Homo sapiens: one gene and its partners. The protein of the gene in region 1 interacts with the protein of each later gene in a pairwise test. Each region holds a gene or a part of one and is shown in the gene's direction. Other genes may lie near its edges.

Evidence for each region. Proteins that work in one complex are often made in the same cells at the same time.
Region 2: the proteins of VXN (region 1) and CEP70 interact in binary tests that used the Homo sapiens proteins (3 or more experiments, as listed by UniProt).
Region 3: the proteins of VXN (region 1) and ZNF76 interact in binary tests that used the Homo sapiens proteins (3 or more experiments, as listed by UniProt).

What each region holds. Positions count from the first base shown.
Region 1 is NC_000008.11:66,489,392-66,497,293, forward strand, and holds the start of VXN (vexin), read left to right. Parts: upstream 1-4,174; 5' UTR 4,175-4,257; coding exon 4,258-4,327; intron 4,328-7,045; coding exon 7,046-7,101; intron 7,102-7,902. UniProt on the Homo sapiens protein: Required for neurogenesis in the neural plate and retina. Strongly cooperates with neural bHLH factors to promote neurogenesis.
Region 2 is NC_000003.12:138,499,897-138,507,260, reverse strand, and holds part of CEP70 (centrosomal protein of 70 kDa), read left to right. Parts: intron 1-1,795; coding exon 1,796-1,966; intron 1,967-3,383; coding exon of another isoform or gene 3,384-3,425; exon of another isoform or gene 3,426-6,011; intron 6,012-6,379; coding exon 6,380-6,526; intron 6,527-6,693; coding exon 6,694-6,862; intron 6,863-7,036; coding exon 7,037-7,151; coding exon of another isoform or gene 7,152-7,164; exon of another isoform or gene 7,165-7,364.
Region 3 is NC_000006.12:35,283,735-35,291,098, forward strand, and holds part of ZNF76 (zinc finger protein 76), read left to right. Parts: intron 1-2,391; exon of another isoform or gene 2,392-2,393; coding exon 2,394-2,474; intron 2,475-2,587; coding exon 2,588-2,665; intron 2,666-2,696; exon of another isoform or gene 2,697-3,240; coding exon of another isoform or gene 3,241-3,256; intron 3,257-3,888; coding exon of another isoform or gene 3,889-3,911; coding exon 3,912-4,111; intron 4,112-6,518; coding exon of another isoform or gene 6,519-6,531; coding exon 6,532-6,648; intron 6,649-6,906; coding exon 6,907-6,982; intron 6,983-7,364. UniProt on the Homo sapiens protein: May be involved in transcriptional regulation.

The sequences.
Region 1 (7,902 bases):
TTCTGTACCAAATCAATTATTTGTGTTAATGTAAAGATAGATGATTACATTTAGTTTTGTTAAATTTCATCTTGTAGATGTTGGTACAACAGTCCAGTCTGTTAAAACAATTTTAGATCTCCACTTCTATTGCAGTAGGTACTCGTCTAAACTTTACATTATCTAAAAATGTATCACTGGGGAGATCATAAAATTTATAGACAGCAGGCACAAAGAAGACTTTTAGACGCTATCCTTTTTATTTATTGTTATTATTATTTTAGAGACAGTGTTTCACTCTGTGTCCCAGGCTGGAGTCCAGTGGCACAATAATGTAATAGCTCACTGCAGCCTCGAACTCATGAGCTCGAGGGATCCTCCCACCTCAGCCTCCCAAAGTGTTGAGATTACAGGCATGTGCCACTACACCCAGCTAATCTTTATTTTATTTTATTTTATTTTATTTTATTTTATTTTATTTTATTTTATTTATTTTATTTTATTTTATTTTATTTTATTTTGTAGAGAGGTCTTGATGTGTTGCCCAGGCTGGTCTCAAACTCTTGGCCTCAAGTGATCCTCCCACCTCAACCTCCCAAAGTGCTGGGATAACAGATGTAAGCCACCACACCCAGCCCTCCTTTTTAGTTGAAAATGACCAAAACCTATGTACACTTAAGCCAACAGGAACTTTATCAGATGGAGACTGAGCTATCTCACTATCTCACTGACTCCAAGATAGGCATGGCATTGGCCTGAGAGAGGTAAGGCGGGAGACGTGCAATCCTCCCTCCCTCCTGAGCTGGGCCTCTTTATTCTCTGTCTCAATCCCCAACACCCTTTCTCACTCTCCCAACACTCCCTTCACCCACAGTCCACCCTCCCATCCCACTGGCCCTTACTGGCGTGTGTACATGACCACAGACCCACCAAGTATGGACCATGGTAAAAGCACTTGTGCCCGCTTCCAGCTAAAACTCTTTACACTGGATGTGCATTCAGGCCCCAGGCCTCTGCCAGACCACCAGTTTCACTTATTTATACTGACTTCCCTTCAATTTTACCCCCTGGGCCCTGAGAAACATCCCAGATATTCAGAGTTTACACCTTTCCTCTGGCCCCAGACCAAAGCCCAATTTCTGTTTCCACAAGGCAGTAGTTTGGGTTAGATGTCCACTGTGGTCCAGACAAAGGTGGCAAGAGGACAAGTTCAAGGAGAATAAACATGGCTTCCCAGAGCCATCCTCTGTGACTGGGTGCAATTCTCAAAGAAAGAGGTATATAATATTGACGACTACCTGATGAGTAAATGCCTCAATTTGTTTACTATAGAGATATCAATGGATGCCAACTCCAGGTCTAAGACATATGGATCAGGTCCACTCAAGTTCAAAGTAATGGAAGGCTTTGCAGTGGGAAAGTTGTCAGAATCAAAATTGGGTCACTTATGTCAGCCTTAACAAAATAGAGCCAGGAGGTCATGGAGGTAGGGGGAGGCTCTCAGGCATGATTTGCCTGATAAAAGGAACTATCACAGGAAATGTTATCAAACCATAGTTTGCTACATGAGTCACACAAAGACAGCTAGCGGCTTGTACAAGAACACTTGCCTGACACACTGTCTCCACTAAAGAACTGACAACAACTCCTGTCATAAACCCTTGTAACCAATGTTCTGTTTGTTTCAAAACAATCTATATGTACTCTTTTGCCTTTAAAACTTCCCCTTACCTTAGCCTCCCTGGATGTGCCTAAGATTTGTCATAGCATCTGTGTCCTGCAATTCCCAATTAAACTACATATTTTTAGAGAGCTTCTCTCTGTTATTTGGGTTGACAGGAGATAAAGAATAGAGTAAAATTTACTGGTTAAGTACTTTTTCTTTTTGAGATGGGGTCTGTCTCTGTCGCCCAGGCTGGAGTGCTGTGGGGCAATCTTGGCTCTTTGCAACCTCTGCCTCCTGAGCTCAAGCAATCCTCCCACCCCAGCCTCCCGAGTAGCTGGGACCACAGGCACACACCACCACGCCCGGCTAATTTTTTGTATTTTTGGTAGAGATGGGGTTTCGTCACGTGGCCCAGGCTGCTCTCAAACTCCTGAGCTCAAGTGATCCTCCTGCCTTGGCCTCTCAAAATATTGGGATTATAGGCGTGAGCCACTGAGGCTGGCCCGGTTAAGTACATTTGACTTTGGAGTCAAACTAGGGATTAAATCCTAATTCTACCACAAACTAGATATTTTAATCTCACAAGAGTTACTCAGTGGCTTTATGCCTCAGTTTTCTCACCTATAAGATGGCAAATATAATAGCTAGTCTTATTGGGTATTCGTAGATATTAAATGAAATTATATATCAGACTACCTAACTTATAGCAAGCATTTAATAAGTGGCAACTCTCATTATTATTATTTCATCACCATCAGTATTAGTATGAAGAAATGAAGCTGTAACAGTGTAATAAAATGCAGTGGGTTTGGCATGATACATATGTTTCAACCATAACCTTATTTGTGTGTATATACATAGAGAATATATAAAATACAGGGCATACATAGGATATCATATGCATATGATATCGTATATCTAGCTGCCCTGAGATTTTGTTTTCACCTGTGTCTGTAGCAATGGCTTGCTGTCACTTCCATTGGTGTACTGGACTGTTGGTACTGAATTAAATGAGACAGGGAGTATTTAGCTGCTCTCGCCTTCCCTCTGATGGATTGTTTCTCAGTGATTGATGTTTATCCTTGTGCCTCTTTCCCCCCTCCAAAAAAATCAAATACCATCAAAACCAAGAGTCCATCAGACCCCAGAGACCTGAGGATAAACCGTAGTAAGGCAGCACGTGACTGTCCTTCCCCTCCTGCCTAAGACGCCACGTTAAGGAAACAGTCAAGGACAATTTCACTCACCCTTGGAAGGAATCACGGTGGTGAAAACTTCTATGTTCTCGTCACTGCAGCTGTAAATCTGATGCATCATTTCAGCCTCCTCTTCCCAAAGTGCCTGGGAACTGGAGGCCTCTGTCTCTGGACCCCTAGTCTCGAGGCATCCTAATCCAGTCCGGCTCAGGGATCATTGTACATGTATCACATATACGATATCATATATACAGATGATATATATGATATCATATAAACACATGATATATATGATATATATACACATGATATATATGATATATACACATGATATATATGATATTATATACACATGATATATATGATATATGGAACAGTATATAACCTGTGACCTCTATATGTAGCATAATAGGATTTATAAGATAATAAATATATAGGATAAATGTATTAGGATATATAGGGTAATACAAATATATATAGGGTAATACAAATATATACATATGCTATATATACATATATCATATATACAAATATATATGATATATATACATACACAAATATATATGATATATATATATACACATACATATATACATATGATATACATACATATATAATAAATATGATATACGGGACAGTATATAATCTGTAACCTGTATATGTAGCATAATAGGGTTTATATAATATATTAGGATATATAGGGTAATACAAATATAACTTTCTATAATTTGCTCCTTGAACATGGGGCACTGCCTGTTGCCATGTCTCTGTGAGCACCTAAGGGTTATACGCGGAGGTACCAAACACAGGACCCTTGAGAAATGTCAGCCTTGTCATGTAATGGCATGAGGGGAAAACACTGGAGAAACAGTCCTTTTGTTTAAAATAGAAACTTCTAAGAGAGCCAAGTTAGCACATGACAAATTACTGAATATCCCGTTCTCCTGGAGGGGAGAAAAAAAAAAAAGCCCCTTCATTTCTGAAATGAGAAAGGGAATTGCTGGTACCAAAATTCACGTTTCCTTTTTGGTGGAAATTCTCCAGCCAAGCTTGGCGCTAACAGAGTAGGCGATTTCACTTCGTCGTCACCTCACAAAAGGCTTCCAAATTCACTGCGGCAGACACCGCAAAATAAAAATGTTAAATACATCCTAGCTGGGAGGGGATTGAAGCCTCCAGGCTCAATCAAAGGTTTGCAATAATAGGATTCATTTAAAAAAAAAAAAAAAAAAAAGGACAGATGGGTTTAGAAAATGTTGCAGTGAAGACTGGAACGAGATGAGCTCATAGCACCAGCCTGTCTTTTGTGGACCCGCACAATGATCCCTGAGCCAGACTGGATTAGGATGCCTCGCGACTAGGGGTCCAGAGACAGAGGCCTCCAGTTCCCAGGCACTTCGGGAAGAGGAGGCTGAAATGATGCATCAGATTTACAGCTGCAGTGACGAGAACATAGAAGTTTTCACCACCGTGATTCCTTCCAAGGGTGAGTGAAATTGCCCTTGACTGTTTCCTTAACGTGGCATCTTAGGCAGGAGGGGAAGGACAGTCACGTGCTGCCTTACTACGGTTTATCCTCAGGTCTCTGGGGTCTGATGGACTCTCGGTTTTGATGGTATTTGATTTTTTGGAGGGGGGAAAGAGGCACAAGGATAAACATCAATCACTGAGAAACAATCCATCAAGGGGAAGGCGAGAGCAGCTAAATACTCCCTGTCTCATTTAATTCAGTACCAACAGTCCAGTACACCAATGGAAGTGACAGCAAGCCATTGCTATGCACACAGGTGAAAACAAAATCCCAGGGTAGCTAGATAGAGACTTTCATTTTTTCCAGTGAGCAAGTGGGTTCTGAAATGAGAACAGCTGGCTTAAAAGTATGATTTCTAACTGTGCCATGCAAAGTGCGGAGAAATACTCCCGGTGGCTGCTTGAAGTCCAGTGAAGCCGTCAGAGAGCGCCCTGACCCTGGGCTGGCTTCTCCACAGAACCCAGGGCCACCTTGCAAACTTAACCCGGAACTAATGCTGCCAGAGAATGCGACACGAGAGTCTTGACTTTATAAGCTCTTGTGGTCCTCAGTGAACGGTGTTAAGGGCTTTGTGTGAGGGTTCTGATGACTCCAAGTGTCTGGTTCCTGGTCAGTCCCCTCAGCCTCTCCTAAGCATGGCCCCCTCTCCTGCCGCCTCTGTTCTCTGCCTGCGCTCCTGTCTTGCCCCCTCCCATCCACCTCCATGACTCAGGCTTAGCCCCTGGTCTCATTGTCAGCCTTGAATGAAGTAGGCTGGGTGTTTGCTGGTGTTGTGAGCCCACATTCAAACAATTCCTTTCTTCCCCTGTGTCAGCCGCTGACAGGGCCATTGCACAGTGGGGCAGGGAGAGATTCCGTTTGGCCACAAAGAGACAGCCTGCAGGACATAAATTAAGCTTTAGACATTTACTGCCAGATCCAGAGAGAGGGAAAAGAGCTGGGAGTCTGCTGCCCACGTGCAGGAGTTGGAATTCCCTCTGGAAACTCTGAAAGTCCAAGTTGACCCTCGGAATCAGCAGTTTCGCTTTTGGGTGGAACTCCTCTTACCCCTGGATGTTCACGGTGGCATTGATTCTAAGAAGGCACAACTGAAAATAACCTGAGTGTCCATGAAGAGGGGAATGGTTAAAATGTGGTGCTGTCATGCTGTGGAATACTATACAATGTCAACAGGAATAAACTAGATGTATGCCTGTGAACATAGGTAGATCTAAGCATAATGCTGAGTGCCAAATAAGCAGGCTGAAAAATTATATATGTAAGATAGCATTTCTGTAAATTTGAAAATATAAACCAATACTATATATTGTTTATGGATATGTATCTAGAGAAAAATACAAAAACATAGACCAGAAAGATACAGATAAAATTAGTGATCTCAGTAGTCTTGGGAAGGTAGGGAAGGAGAATTAGGGAAGGGTAGAAAGAGAACCAAAACATTGCCTCTGATTTTGTATTTCTTGTATATGAGAAGAAAACAAAGTAGAAGGAAATATGAAAATGTTACATGTGTTTATTTTCTATCATTTACTTCCATTTACAAAATTTTTAAAGGAAGAAAAAGTCAAAACGAAGTGGTTAAGAGACTGCTGCCACTTCTGCACTGTGTGACCTTGGGCAAGCTACTTAACCTCTCTGGGCCTGAGTTTCCACTGCTGTAAATGGGAGAAACAACTTATCTTCCAGGATCATATGGGGAATAAATGAGTAAATATATAAAGCATCTAGAACAGTAGCTGGCATGTAGTAAGCACCATTAAATACATCACTTAAAAAGTGATTTCCAATTTTATTTTGTATTTAGAATAATCAACATGATCAGTCAAAGATAAATATTTAATCTTATCTTTTTTCCCTTCCCATTTTCATTCATGGCCACTTCCTTGTGGTACAAGAGTAGCTATCTTGTGAAGTTGCTGTAAAACCTTTTCCCAACCAAGTAACATGTTTAATGGTTAATTTCTTTAAGCTTTTTTATAATTGTGGCAAAATATGCATAACAAAATGTACCATTTTAAAAACTATTTTTAAGTGTACAGGTCAGTGGCATTAAGTCTATTCACATTGTTGTGCAACCATCACCCCCATCCATCCTAGCACTTCTTCATTATCCCAAACTAAAACTCTGAATCCGTTGAACACTAACTCATTCCCCCACTCTTCCAGCCACCAGTAACCACCATTCTACTTTTTGTCCTACAAATTTGGTTTTTTGTCCTTTTGTTTGTTTGTTTTTCTGTCTCTATGAATTTGACTACTCTAGGAACCCCATATTAAGAGGAATTGTAGACTATGTGACATTTTGTGTCCGGCTTATTTCACTTAGTACCATGTTTTCAAGGTTCATCCATGTGTGGCATGTATCAGAATTCCATTCCTTTTCAAGGCTGAGTAATATTCCATCACATACAGACACCATATTTTGTTTATTCATTCATCTGTTGGTGGACATTTGGGTTGTTCCCAAACTTCAGCTCTTGTGAGTAATGCAGCTATGAACTTTGTACTCAAGCCAAGTAACATCTTCAATCGCAACGACCCTGTCTCTTTTTCCCGTCCCCTCCTCTATGCCCCTGCCTCGCCACAGATTCAAACCTTCTCAGTGTTGTTACTGTAGCTATGTCAGCCTCGCTGATGTTGTCTAAAACCATTTCTTTCTCTCTGTCTTTGCAGTATCCAGTCCAGCCAGAAGAAGAGCCAAAAGCTCTCAGCACCTCTTGACCAAGAATGTAAGGAAACTTTAGTTTTGATGTTCTTTGGTTGACTTTCATTTAAAAAGCAATGCCAGGCTTCTTCTTCACTCTCGCTCCCCAGCTCTCAGTGGCCAGGAGGGTTTCAGTGTTCCATGTGGTGCGTGCTGCACTCTCCGTTCTCCACTTAACCAAAATAATTGACAAATGTCAACCAGACACCAAGTGACCCTGAACTGGACCACTTATTCTGCCATTTTCTCCAGGCACAGAGAGTAAGACTTGTTTTATGCACACTTTTTTTTTCTTGTTTAAACAGAGTTCACGATGTGGACATAGCATTCCTGATCTAGGTGTTTTCCTATTGTTGGCATTCGTAATGTTCCATTTTTTTACTATTATTAATAGCACAGCAATGAATGTATTTATATAAAATACTATTTTTTTTTTGAGATGGAGTCTCTCTCTGTCGCCAGGCTGGAGTGCAATGGCACAATCTCTGCTCACTGCAACCTCCGCCTCCAGGGTTCAAGGGATTCCCCTGCCTCAGCCTCCCAAGTAGCTGGGACTACAGGCGCACGCCAGCACGCCTGGCTAATTTTTTGTATTTTAGTAGAGACGGGGTTTCACCATGTTGGCCAGGATGGTCTCGATCTCCTGACCTCATGATCCATCTGCCTTGGCCTTCCAAAGTGCTGGGATTACAGGCATGAGCCACTGCACCTGGCCAAAATACTATTCTTTTGGATTAATTCCTCAGAGCATAGGCCTCAAAGTAGAAAAAAAAGGTAAAAGGATAAGAACAATTTCATCCATCCATCTACTCCTTCATCAAATATT
Region 2 (7,364 bases), on another chromosome or scaffold:
GTTGTGTATTTTTAAATTTAGCTCTTGCATATTTCTTGTTAGGAAATACCTTGTTATTTCCTAGGTATTTTATAACTTTTATTGCTATTGTAAATGGGAACCAAGCACCTTTCTGAAAACTGTTTTGTTTTAGACTTTCTTGTACCAGTATATAACTGGATTTCATTTTGTTTCTGAGACTCAATTTGAGAGGCTTTGTCCTTTAAAAGGGGAATTCAAGCCGGGTATGGTGGCTCATGCCTGTAATCTTAACACTTTGGGTGACCGAGGCAGGAGGATTGCTAGAGGGCAGGAGTTTGAGACCAGCCTGGGCAATATAGTGAGACCACATCTCTAGAAAAAAAAAAATTTAATTAGCTGGGCATGGTGGCTTGTGCCTGTAGTCCTAGCACTTGAGAGGTTGACATGGGAAGATCACTTGAGCCCAGGAATTCAACGCTGCAGTGAGCTCCGTTCACACCACTGCACTCCATCTTAGGCTGCAGAGTGAGACTCTGTCAAATAAATATATAAAACAAATATACATACATCAATTTGAAGTGAAATATTGAATTATACTAATTTGGACTTAAAAAGCTTCTAAATAAACATCTGAAGTAATAAACATCTTAAGTCATATTACCAGGAGGCCTATTAGTTATATCTTGAAGTATGACCAGGGACAAAGATTCAAGAGCAAAATGCTATCTTTATATTGTGAAACTTTTTATTAAATAGGCTGAACTTGATGGTGGTAATAGGAAATGGCTTTATTCTTCTCTCTTTAAACATGCTTTTTGAGGTCTCCCTTTTTTTCCTCGGATGATATGTAAGGTAGAACCCATCACTTATGGGGAGAGGGTTATAGTCAAATAGTATACTATCTTAATATATTAAGATACCTAAAATTCAATCCAGGCATCAATGATATTATTTTTGGAGACAGGGTCTTGCTCTGTTGCCCAGGCTGAAGTGCATTATCATAGCTCACTGCAGCCTTGAATTCCTGGGCTCAAGTGATCCTCCTGCCTCAACCTCCCAAAGTGCTGGGATTACAGGCATGAGCCACCACACTCAGCCTGGGGATTGCTGTTAATTTCCTTAAATAGTCTGATAATGTTCTTGTGAGTTTGTAGGAGAATATGCCTACTTTTAAAAGATGCATGCTTTATTATTTGAGGGTGAAGAGTTTCTTCAAATGGTTCACCTAAAAATATAGATAGTGAGCAAATATGGCAAAATACTAACAATTTTTGAACCTAGGTAGTGTTTGTAATAGTTAATTTTGTTTCAACTTTACTGCGGCATAGGATGCCCGATATTTGGTTAAACATTATTCTGGATGTGTCTGGGAAGGTGCTTCTGGATGAGATTGACATCCGAATCAGTAGACTTTAGTAAATCAGACTGCCTTTCCTAATGGGGTGGGCCTCATCCAATGATTCAAAGCCCTGAGTAGAACAAAAGGCTGAATAAGAGGGAGCTCCTCCTCCCTGACTGCTTTCAAGATGGGACACTGGTTTTTTTCTTGCCTTCAGACTCAAACTGAAACATTAGCACTTGCAGGGGTCTCAGTCTGCCTGCATTTGGACTGCAAATACCCATTACCTTTTCTGGGTCTTCGCTTACTCACTGCAGATCTTGGGACTTGTCAGTCTTCATAATTGCATGAGCCAATTCCTTATGATAATTTTCTTTGTATATTTAATGAAATATGTGTATATAATATATATAGACATAAAGCACTCCTTTAAAATATATAACTTTGTAGGCATAGGATAAATATTTTGACTATATACACTATGTTTTTTTAAAGGTGCTGTGTAGCATCAATTCAATTATCCACAATCCAAGAGCTCCAGTAATAATTTATAAACAGACCAAAGGGGGAGTCCAAAATTTTAATAAAGATCTTGTTCAAGATTGTGGATTTGAGCATCTTGTTCCTGTAATAGAAATGTGGGCAGATCAACTGACATCCTTAAAGGTAAGGGGTTGACTATGATTATATGCTTTGAACATCTATTGGACTCTATGTGCTTTATTAATAGGACTTAATTCAGGGCTAAAAATTAAATAGGGTTTAATTTTTTTGTTTGTGTGTTAACTCTAAAGCTAAAAAAGCTTATTATCTAAAACCGAAATCTTCCTACTTACATATCTATTTTAGGTACTGTCTATTTGATGTTGTCATTACTGTAAGCTTTACCTCCTCTAAGATTCTACCAAACAAGAAATTTTGGGGTTAGTTTCCTTATTGAAAATCTATAGTGGATCCACTTTGTACTTCTAGGCCCTTCCCTGTTCTACCTTCATCTGCCTCCTTTTCATATCTCCATGCTGCGATTTTCCTGGCCCTTATCCCTCTTCAGATATAATGTCTTATCCTTCATTTTATTATAATTGGGGATATTTTCTCTCTCTTCACACTTTATTTTCTGTCTCTCAGAACTGAGCTTATCTCCATTTCTGCTTATTCTCTAGAACAGATAGTAAGCTAGCAGCCAACGCTACCCTTCCCTATCCTATCTCTTCATGGAAGACCACATTTTATTTATAGAGTTATTGTGTATTTATTGCATAGCTTCAGGTTTTTTCAGTTTTTGTTAACTAGTTTGCTGAAAGGTAAATAGTTGAAATCAGTAGTATTTAACTTCTTTGCCCTTTACACTTTAGATTTATTAGTAACTAATATAATACATAGCATATGCCTGTTAATGAAAATGTGATTCAATAACAGTGTTTGCAACATAAGTCTTATTACATGAAGTACAAATGATGCAGAAGATATCTGTTAAGAATGTATAAGCTCCATGAAGACAGTGTTTTTATTTGTTCTGATATGTCCCCAAGATCCTCCTGATGAATGAGTGCTCAATTAATATTTGTTAAAAGGAATGAAGCAGAATATTATATTCCAAGACAACAAAATTGGGGGTGGTGATGTTAATTTTTTTTAAATTTCGACTTCCCTTTTTATATAGGGCTCAGACAGAGCTATACAATACATAAACATTTTGATTGAGTGACAGTGCTAGATTAATATACTTACTTTATAGACCGGAGTTCCTCCAGTCTGTATCTCAGAAGAGTGTAAAATAATTAGTAATAGTGTAAATCATGGTATTTCCTCAATCACTGCCTGTCAGAGGGTTCTCCCAGTAGGAGGAAACAGTGCTGACTCCACCTTTCTTCATCTCAGAAGGGATGGACTAGAAAAAGCCCTAGCCTTCCTAGAAGAAAAGACTAGAAGAGGAAGAAGACAAAGGGAAGAATCACACTAATGGATAGTTATTGATCGTTTATCATGCTAAGCCATTATGGGATGAACACAAGATTCAGACTAATTAGACAAAATATACTAAAAAATATGAAACAAAATGTAATCATTTATATCGTTAAAGGAAATGAGTGACATAAAAATAGATTACCGGTTGAAGTTCTGAGTGAATGATGCAGATAACTTGTGCTCTAGAGTCTGGAGGAGAAAGAGAACACTCTGATTGTAGCCCCCAAGAAGGGCTTTGCCATGGTGGTGAGTTCTTGCTATTGTATGGTTTTCTGAGGAGGAGGAGGAGGCAAGGAATTCGCTTTATAATTAGAATATTCTGAGGACACCCAAGAAGAAATTATTAAGAATTAGTTACTTCTGCCATTGGAGTAACTCATGGATTTTGAGCAGTGCTTCAGATATTAATACTACAGTTTCAGGGTCCAAATTAAGAAACTACATGAGATTCTCTGAGGCCTCATATCAAAGGTTATTTGATATGTAGCAACCTCTAAGTTTGGGACAACCATCTTCCCAGATTAGTTTTTTCCCTCAGGTTAAATTTGGCTTTAAAGAGTAAGATAGGTTTGAGGGATGAATGGATAAGCAAAATGTGGTATATACATATATTGCAATATTATTCAGCCATTAAAAGGAAAGAAATTCTGACCCTTGCAACATGGGTGAACATTATGAGGACATTATGCTAAGTGAAATAAGTCAGTCACAAGAAGATTCCACTTATATGATTCCACTTGTATGAGATACTTAGTGAAAATCATAGAGACAAAGTAGAGTGGTGATGGCTAGAGGGAGGAGGGAAATGGGAAGTTATTGTTTAATGGGTATAAAGTTTCAGTGTTACAAGATGAAAAGAATTATGGAGATGGATGGTGATGTTGGTTGCACAACATTATGAACATATTAACACTGAACTTACATTTAAAAATTGTTAAGATGGTGAATTTTATGGGTATTTTACTAGTTTTAAAAATTGGAAGAAAAGAAGGCTGGGAAAGACATGGAGCCAGCTGCCTCCAGCCTTGTGTCTTTTCCCTCCTGCCTTTCCAAGAAAGGTGAACTACAGATGTTGTAGCTTTCCCCAACCCAGTACACTCTTGAATACTTTTGCTTTGCTATTCTCCAGTGCTTCAGAGGCCAGACGTACACGGTAGGCTGGCTCATGGTAGTACTTCTACATCTCCACAACTGGGCAATGTAAAGAACCTAGGAGACCCTCTTATATTTTTCAGAGCTTACTTGATGGACTGTGCTACAACCATCCTGTCACTGCTTAGGAGACCAGAACATCTTTTCTTCTTAGCTTTGTAATACTCTTTTATTCTGAAGCAAAAATGTATTAGATTGGGTATGCTTTTTACCATAGATTACTTTATAAATGTGCCTTGTTCCTGGAGCATTGGTTAATAAAGGTATCATTATGCTGTTACTTGCTGACTTTTTTTTTTTTCAAATTCTAGTGGCATTGATTGTAAAACATTCATTTGACATGGAATTTATTGCTATGAATTACTAAAATAGTAACTGCCTTCCTACCAATTGAAAGGTTAAAGATACCAATATGTGAAGTCTGAGCCTTAAGTGGAGAGTGTCAAGTGAAGTACTAAAATAAGTTAGAAAAAGGAGGAACTTCTTGTACTTCTTTCTGTTCTCTAGAGCTGTGCTGTCTAGTATGGTAGCCTCTAGCTGCATGTGGTTATTGATCACTTGAAAGGTGGCTAGTCCTAATTCAGATGTGTTATAAGTGTAAAATATACACTGGATTTAGAAGACTTTGTATGGGAAAAATTAAAATAATTGATTTTATATTGAAATGATAATATTTTGGATATATTGGGTTAAATAAAATATACTAGTACAGTTAATATCACATGTTTCTTTTCACTTTCCATACTATGGCCCTAGACAACTTAAAATTACTGTGGCTCACATTACATTTCTTTTGGACAGCGTTGTTCTAAAGGACCAAGCGCTGTGCCATACACATATGGATTGAGTATCCCTTATCCACAGTGCTTGGGCCTAGAAGTATTTTGATTAAGAATTTTTTCAGATTTTGGAGTATTTGCAGAATATATGCCATTTGAGCATCACTGATCCAAAAATCCGAAATTCAGAATGCTCCAATGAGCATTTCTTTTGAGTGTCCTGTTGTTGCTCAGAGTTTCAGATTTTGGAGCATTTCAGATTTTCGGACTAGGAATTCTAAATATTTGTCGATTGATCAGTCTAGAGCTCTAAACTTTCAGTAGCCTTGCCCATTGTGCACAGTTTAAAATCAATTAGGGCACCACAACTAGGCCAAGAAAACTAAGTGGAGTATTATAATGTAGAATACATTTAGGGAACCTTTCACATTAAAAACTTGCCTGGAGATACATGTTATAACATGGATAAATCTTAAAAACATTATGCTAAGTGAGAGACGTCATTCATAAAAGACTACTTATTGTATAATTCCCTTTATGCAAAATGCCTAGAATAGGCAAATCCATAGAAACAGAAAATAGTTTAGAGATTAACCCTAGGAGCTGCAGGGAAGGGAAAATGGGGAAGGAAGGACTCTTAGTGGGTCTGAGATTTCTTTTTGGAGTAATGAATATGTTCTGAAATTGGATAGTGCTGATGTTTGTACATGTGTGAAAATATTAAAACTACTGAATTGTATACTTAGGGTAAATTTTATGGTATATGAATTACATCTCAATAAAGCTGTTATATAACATATTCAAAACCAAAATTCAAGGGCAAGTTTATTCTTTGTGTATCAACAATTCAAAATAATGAAATATTATGGAACAATAATAAATAACATAAAATTACTTAGAGCACTCAGATTCAGAATAATCAATATATAATGTTTTCTGTAAAGCCTGTGTTTACCTGGAGAAACCTAATTTTAACTGACTTGTTCTAAATTGGTAGTAGTATTTTTATTTAAAAAAAATGATGGTTACATATATATTTTTTTAACCTGTGTAATTATGTTTTATTAATTTTATAAAACATATAATATATAAAACTTATAATTTTACTAATTATGTTCTATTATGTTACTATAGAAATTATTTAAATCAATAATACCATATAGTTTCTTTTGTTATAAAGGATTTGTATAAGTCCTTGAAAACACTATCTGCAGAACTGGTACCTTGGCTTAATTTGAAGAAGCAGGATGAAAATGAAGGTATCAAAGTTGAAGATTTGTTGTTTATAGTAGATACTATGCTGGAAGAAGTTGAAAATAAGGAAAAGGTAATACCTACATGAACGGTCACCTTCTAATGTTTCTTATCTCAAAAACTGATAAATTGTGGATATTGATATTTGTTCTACTAGAGTTCTATTTGTCTTTTAAAAGTTTTTATTTGGGATTATTTTAAGATAATGAACTCTTTCTTTTTTACCTCTTTTTTGGACAGGACAGCAATATGCCACACTTTCAAACTTTGCAAGCTATTGTTTCTCACTTCCAAAAGTTATTTGATGTGCCTTCTTTAAATGGAGTCTATCCCCGAATGAATGAAGTTTATACTAGGCTTGGAGAAATGAACAATGCTGTGAGAAACCTCCAAGAACTCTTAGAATTAGGTGATGACCTAATTTGTCATTTTGGGCCCCCATTTAAGAATTTTTAATAAATTAACAAAAAGTAGATTAAAAAATGTTTAAGTGAAAAATTGAGGATAACTGAAGCATAAAATGTTTGATGTATGTAATTTTGGAAATTCTCTGTTAAAATATCCTTTTATTTCTCTTTTGCAGATAGTTCATCCTCATTGTGTGTGCTAGTAAGCACTGTTGGAAAACTCTGTAGGCTGATTAATGAAGATGTGAATGAGCAGGTTATGCAGGTATTAGGACCTGAAGACCTCCAGAGGTATTTGTTTTAAAAGTTTACAAAGTATCATCCAGAATGGCTGGGTGTGGTGGCACACGCCTGTAGTCCCAGCTACTTGGGAGGCTGATGTGGGAGGATCACTTGAACCCAGGAGTTTAAGTCCAGTCTGAGCAAGGCAGTGAGACCCTGTCTCTAAACAATAAAAATTAAAATAAGTATTATCGAGAGTTCCTGGAGGGGTGAAATTAAAGA
Region 3 (7,364 bases), on another chromosome or scaffold:
CAGAACCCCAAGTACTGATGCCCTTGCCAGGACAGATAAATTGTTAAAATGAGGGTAGCCTACTGCTCTGTGGGTGGGAGGGAAGAAAATGGGTTCATCTTCCCCCCATCTCAGCTGCCTTTCCTATTTCTTACCTTTATCTCCACCTTACCTGCCTTTGGTTAGTTGTAGGACTGTTAGTTACTGACCCCAAGAAGACTCAGTTTGGGAGCAAGTTTGGGGATTCCTCTAAAGGGGAGACGTCAGCAGAGACTTGGGCTGGAAGTAACTGTCTTTCCCACCTGAGCGCTCAGTTTCCTAAACCTCAATCTTCTAAGGAAAGGACAAATCACTTGTCATTAACTTTTTTTTTATTTTTTCTTCCTTTTTTTTTTTGAGACGGAGTCTCACCCTGTAGCCCAGGCTGGAGTGCAGTGGCGTGATCTCGGCTCACTGCAACCTTCGCCTCCCGGGTTCAAGCGATTCTCCTGCCTCAGCCTCCCGAGTAGCTGGGACTATAGGCATGTGCCATCACGCCTGGTTAATTTTTTTGTATTTTTAGTAGAGACACGGTTTCATGATGTTGGCTAGACTGGTCTCGAACTCCCGACCTCAGGTTATCCGCCTGCCTCAGCCTCCCAAAGTGCTGGGATTATAAGTGTGAGCCACCACACCCAGCCTTACTTTTTTGTTTTTTCTTTTTGAGACAGGACCTCACTCTGTCACCCAGGCTAGAGTGCAGTGGTACAATCTCAGCTCACTGCAACCTCCGCCTCCCGGGTTCAAGTGATTCTCCTGCCTCAGCCTTCCGAGTAGCTGGGACGACAGGTACCTGCCTCCACACCCAGCTAATTTTTTTGTATTTTTAGTAGAGACAGGGTTTCACCATGTTGGTTAGGCTGGTCTCAAACTCCTGACCTCAGGTGATCTGCTCGCCTTGGCCTCCCAAAGTGCTGGGATTACAGATGTAAGCCACCGTGCCCAGCCTTTTTATTTATTTATTTTTTATTTTTTTCAGACAGGGTCTTACTCTGTCACCCAGGCTGGACTGCAGTGGCATAATCACGGCTTACTGCAACTTCTGCCTCCTGGGCTCAAGCAATCCTCCCACCTCAGCCTCCCGAGTAACTGGGACCACAGGCATGCACTACTACATCCAGTTAATTTTTGTGTTTTTTGTAGAGACAGGGTTTTGTCACATAGCTCAGGCTGGTCTCAAACTCCTGAGCTCAAGCGATCCACCCGCCTTGGCCTCCCAAAGTGTTGGGATTATAGGCATGAGCCACCGAATCTGACCATCATTAACTCTTCAATCTCCCTTTCTTTCCTTTCTCATTTCTCTTCTTCCTTCCCCCTCTGTCAGACTCACTGGACACAAGGAAGGGTCGTCTAGTTCTAATTTCAAGAGCCTTATTAGAAGTGCTTTCCAGTAAGGTAAAGGAAGAGTAATATCTTAGGAAATCTGGAGGCTTGTTAATTTTTATGCTGCTTGTTGTGTTGCCTTAGGTGATCTAATTTTTTACTAGAAAATTGAAATGAAAAATGAGAGGTCAATGAAGGAACATTACTCAACAGTGGCAGTGGAATAAGACCTTCATGGACACATAATAGCATAATAGTTGTGCTCACATAGTTCTCTATTGCTTTACTTTCCATTTCTTCTAAAATGCATATTGGGCTTATAATAAAAGCTAGGATTTATTGAGGGCTGACCATATATACCTGGCACTCTTCCCAGTTTTTTATATTCGTTAACTCATTTAACCCTAACAGCAACCCTATAAGAGACACAGTTTTCAATCCCCATTTTAAGAAAAGGAAACTGAGGCACAGAGAGGTTAGTTAAATAAGCTGTCCAAGGTCACACAGCTGTTAAGAGGTAGAGCTGGAATTCAAACTCTGGAGGCCTGGCCTGGTTCCAGAGTCTATTGTTTTTAACCATTAAGCTATATATCCTGCCTTCACAGGGGCTCCTGGTCTTAGCACACTGTCATAGTGAGGGATGAGGGGATATGTTTTGATTTTGTTAGTTTGAGCTATATCTGAATTTTGACCCACTGGGGCTCATCCAGGTTTAAGGGCCATTAGTTCAAGTCTCAGCAACTTACTATTAGGTTGGAAGTTTCCACTTGGCTGGGCATGGGTAGAATAATAAGTGAAGTTATTCCTCCTGTTAGTAACTGGAAGGGAATCTGTTGGGAGGTGATGGGTTCGGCAAGGCAAGTGTCTTCACCCTTAGTGTCTCAAGGCCCAGGCCCAGGGAGACAGAGCAAGGGAACAAGGAAGATGTTACCCATGCTTAGACCTGCAGGCTCGTGCCTAGAGACTCAAATAAGCCTCAGCTAAAAACAGGCAGGCGTTTCTTAGCCCTCTTCTGGTCCTGGCCCATTTCTCTCTATTTCCACTCTTAACAGGAGAGAAGCTTCTTGAAGGGCAGGTGATCCAGCTCGAGGATGGGACCACCGCATACATTCACCAGGTGACGGTACAGAAAGGTGAGGGCACCCCAACACACCATGCCTTGTCGAGGGAAGCCTGACAGCCCCCACCAAGGGACCCCTCCATGGCACTGAGCTCCAGGGAAAGGCAGGCATTGCTCTCGTTACAGAAGCTCTCTCCTTTGAGGATGGTCAGCCTGTGCAGCTGGAAGATGGCAGCATGGCTTACATACACCGCACACCCAGAGGTAGGGTCACCATCATCACAACTCGGGGAAGGATGGGAGGCAGGACTGGAGGATGGGGTGGCAGGACTGGAGGATGGGATGGCACACAACTGGGGTGTAGACATGGGAGCTGTCATCTCCATGGTACACACATGCTCACCTGGATTAGCAGCCTTGCCCACCTTCCCTGGTGCAGACCACAGGAGCAGCTATGTCTGCAACTGGGAGGTGAGCCTTGGAGATCAGTGACGTGGACTTTGATGGTGGCCTTGGCTCCAGCACAGCCACAAAGTCTTAGGGCTTTAAATAGGACCCGAGGATATCATCCAAGACCAGGAAAAAAAACTAATATTTTAGAATGAAGCTCCTAAGGTGCTGAAGAATAACAATTTATTCCTTCCGCAGGTGGTTTCTTGAGTGACTGTTGCATGCCTGGCGTTGTGTTAGGTGTGCAGTATACAAGACAGAACAAAGTCAGACACAGTCCCCGCTCTCCTAGAGTCTAGAGGGGGAAACAGAAGTGAAACAAGCCATCAGTGATGAACTGATCATTACAAACAGAGATCAGGCTCAGGGAGGGCTTCTCTGAGGTAGTGATGCTTGAGCTGAGAGGTAAAGAATGAGGTAGACTTAGCTGGGGGAAGAGGGATGGCAGGGAGGGTTCAGTACTTCAGGCAGAAGGAATAGCATGTGCAGGCCTAGAGCTGGGGGGAAGAAAGAACAGCACATTCCAGGAACTGCTAGGAGCTAGAGCCCTGGGAGTGAAGGCAGAATGAGCAGGAGGAAACTGGAGAGAGAAAGACAGGGCTGGTGCACTCTGGGTTTGAGTGTCAGGGTGAGGATTTTGGTCTTTATCCTGAGACCAGTGGGAAGCATTTAAACTGTTGAGGCAGTTAAGTGACATGGTCACATTTGTGTCCCGCAAAGATCCCTCTGGATGTTGTGCTGCCTGGAGGGAACTAGAGGGGGTGAGGAGCGACTGGTCAGGAGGCTATTGTGGTCATCTAAGCCAAAATGATGATGGGCCCCTGTCAGGTCCTCAAGGAGCTTGTGAGTTCCCATTTAGTGTACCATAGGAGACCTCATCCTTAGGTGAGACAGCTGCAGAAGGAGGGCCAGCAAGAGTGAATCACAAAGTGAAGGGCCATGAGAAATTGGATGTTGAAACCCTCCTTGGTATATGTATCTCTCATTAACTTAAAGCTAGGGTCCCAGCTGTATCTCTTCCCCTTGTGTGGCATCAGGGCTAACCGCGTGTTCCCTGCAGAAGGCTATGACCCCAGCACCCTGGAAGCCGTCCAACTGGAAGATGGCTCCACTGCCTACATTCACCACCCTGTGGCTGTGCCATCGGAGAGCACCATCCTGGCCGTACAGACAGAGGTGGGCTTGGAGGACCTGGCAGCAGAGGATGATGAGGGCTTCAGTGCAGACGCAGTGGTGGCCCTGGAGCAGTATGCCAGCAAGGTGAGCACGCACAGCGTGACACGGTCTGTCACTCTAGACAACCGGGCCTGGCCTGCGCACTGCCTCTTGGCCCTGCCAGAACTTCACCTCTCAAGAGGACAAGGGCAGCCCTGTGCTTGGGCACCATGTGGGATATTCCCTTTGCCCCTCCACCCCAGCTCCCCCAACTCACCTGTCACACATCATTGTCTAGGGCATGCAACACAGCCTGGCCTGGCCGCTGACAGCTGTTTACGCTCACTTTTGTTTACGCTGTCTTTGCAGAGGGAAAGCTGCCATAAGAAACAGTGGCATCCTTATGCTGAGGAGTTAGGCCCAGCTTCACTTTGGCTGCTGTAGTAATCCTCTGCACTAGCTGGGAAAGCCCTGCCAGTGACTTGTATTAGCTTTCTAGTCCACTGAGGTAATTGTATTTATTTCTTCTCTGTGACTCAGTCATTTGGAAAATTAACCTCAGTGGGCTATGACAAGGGCATGTGCAACAGAACAGCTGGGATTCCTGGATTATGAGGCCCACACAGTAGCTCAGCTGGAAAGGAAAAGGGTCCTGGCTCTGCAAATACCAGTCAGTCCAAGTTCTTTCTGCCGAAACCATGGTCCTGCATGTGGGGAAAAGGGTACAGACATCTCTGAGCTTTCCAAACCAGGGTGTTCCCTTCCTGGAATGACTACAGAGCCTCAGGCTGGATGTGCCAGGGCTTCCTGCACGTTCCTTCCTTCCAGCAGTTTTACCCGAAGATGGGGGAGGTTTTTTATTTATAATGAAACCAGTGTGACTGAATGATGGAGGAAAAAAGGAAGTCCTCATGTCTTTTCAAAATGAAGCACAGGCCGGGAGCAGAGGCTCACGCCTGTAATCCCAGCACTTTGGGAGGCTGAGGCAGGTGGATCGCTTGAGTCCAGGAGTTTGAGACCAGTCTGGGCAACATGGCGAAACCTCATCTCTACACAAAAATACAAAAACAAATTAGCTGGGCATGGTGGTGCGCACCTGTGGTCCCAGCTACTGGGAAGCGGAGGTGGGAGGATCAGGAGGCGGTGACTGCAATGAGCTGAGATTGTCCCACTGCACTCCAGCCTGGGCAACAGAGGGAGATCCTATCTAAAAAAAAAAAAAAAAAAAAAAGTCACAAAACTTTACAGTAGGCTACATTCACTCCCACCCAGGTTCCCTGAGGTATATCTTAGAGACCAAATTTGAGACTCGATGTTGATGTAAAGAGAAGTGGGTTTTATTTAAATCATGAGCCCTGAGATCTATGCTTGCTCTACCTCTACCTAGTCCAAACTTGGGTGAGTCCCTCCTCTCCTCGACCTCAGCTTATTCCTAATATGATGAGATGGGACCAGATGATCTCAGAGGTCACTTCCATCCCTGATGTCCCTTGATTCCCGTGATTACCCCAGGAGCTAGTGAGACATGGAATGAAATCCAAGTGCCTGTGTGGGTTAGCCCGCCAAGCAGGTCAGGCCACCTCTGACCCTACCCTCTACCCAGAAGCTGTTTAAGTGTCCGTGAAGCTCTCAGCTGCTTGAGCCTCTGAGCTGGAGCCTAACTAGACAGACCTTGCCATGAATTTGGCCTCACCCCTCTGTCCCCTGCTCACTGTAACTTGTAGAGTTCAGTTTCAGGAGCTCCTGGAAAGACCAGAGTGTGATTCTGAAGCATTCTAGAAAGAAAGACTAAGGGATAGTCCCACCAGGACCCTGCCCAGGAAAGCAGAAGAGCAATAAGGGCTCCCTGCATCCAGAGGCTGGTGTGAGATGGGTGGCTTTAGCAATATCCCAGAAGAGGAGACAAAAGGGGAGGACTTGTCAGCTGGGTGCTGTCATTAGAGCTGACATTTCTGGTGGAAACTGCAGCACTCCCCTGGGTGCTTCTGGTCGTGGCCACCTCACTCTGGGCCCCAAGTCCTATCAGATGAACCTAGGTGAGCTCATCTCCACAGCAAGCCCCCTTGTTTATGTACTTTTAAGCACTAGTTTCGTGCCAGGAGGAAGGGGACCCCTCCCATCAGAAGATGGAGGTCTTGAGAGTTGCAGGCTCCTAGGTGTGTGTGCTTAGAAGGAGGGTTTCTGGCACTTGGTCCAGTTCAAGCATGGCCATTCAGACAACCTCCCTTTTCACCTTACCTAGCTGTCTATGTGATAGCCTTTCTTCAATAGCCGTCACAGCCACTATGACCTGTAGGTCTCCCTTTATCCCATCAGAGATGGGTGGTGACTCCCCATGCCCACCCTGTTTCTTCTGTAGCATGCCCCAGCATCTGTTCCTTGTCCGTCTAGTTATGTTCTTCTGCCCCAGAGGCCCCTGACAGGTTTAACCCTGCCTGTTGGGTCTTAAGCTGCCAGCAGGGCCCTGTGTCCCACCTTCTTCACTGGGGAGAATACATATAGGGATCTCAAGACTTTTCCCCCAGGTTCTTCATGACAGCCAGATTCCCCGTAATGGAAAAGGGCAGCAAGTTGGAGACAGAGCATTCCGCTGTGGCTACAAGGGCTGTGGGCGTCTCTACACCACCGCTCATCACTTAAAGGTAAGGTTGCTGGCAGACAGCCGTCAGCTCTGCAGTCTTCCCTCCCAGGCTGTAATTCTACCTTTCTGCTTTGATTGGAATTGGTCCCTGCCCTCACGTTGCTGGAGGGAAGAAATGAGGGTACACAGGAATGCCAGCACAGAGCGCTTGACACACATGAATGGTACAGGAGGGAAGAGAATCAGGGTCCTAAAGAAAACCAAAGAGCCCTGGTCATACCCTTGCTCCTCTGAATTATGTGATTGCTTGTCCTCACAGGTGCATGAACGAGCTCATACAGGTGACCGTCCATACAGATGTGACTTCCCCAGCTGTGGAAAGGCCTTTGCCACAGGTAACCTGCCTGGTGGGCTGCTTCCAGTTGAGGGTGGAGGGTTCTCGTTCTGTTTGGGACCTCTCTGAAGGGAACCCAACACCAGGCTGCTTTCCTGGAGAAACTACCGTCAGAGTACTCTGACTTGCAGGGTGCTCTCTCTGGAGGAAACCTTGTTACGGGAGTGCAAGGCAGCATGGTTCAGGCCAGCAGAAGGAGCCTGGAGGGTTGGTGGAGAGACCCAGCCTCTTGTGTCAGCTCTGATGCCAACCAGCTGTGGATTATTGGGTGGGCCATTGCATCTCTCTGGGCTTATTTTCCCCTCTGTGAAACTAGTACCTTTAGCCATGAGTTCTCTAAGTTTCTTTTCATGCTCATGTTCTGGTATGGCTCCAACTGCTCC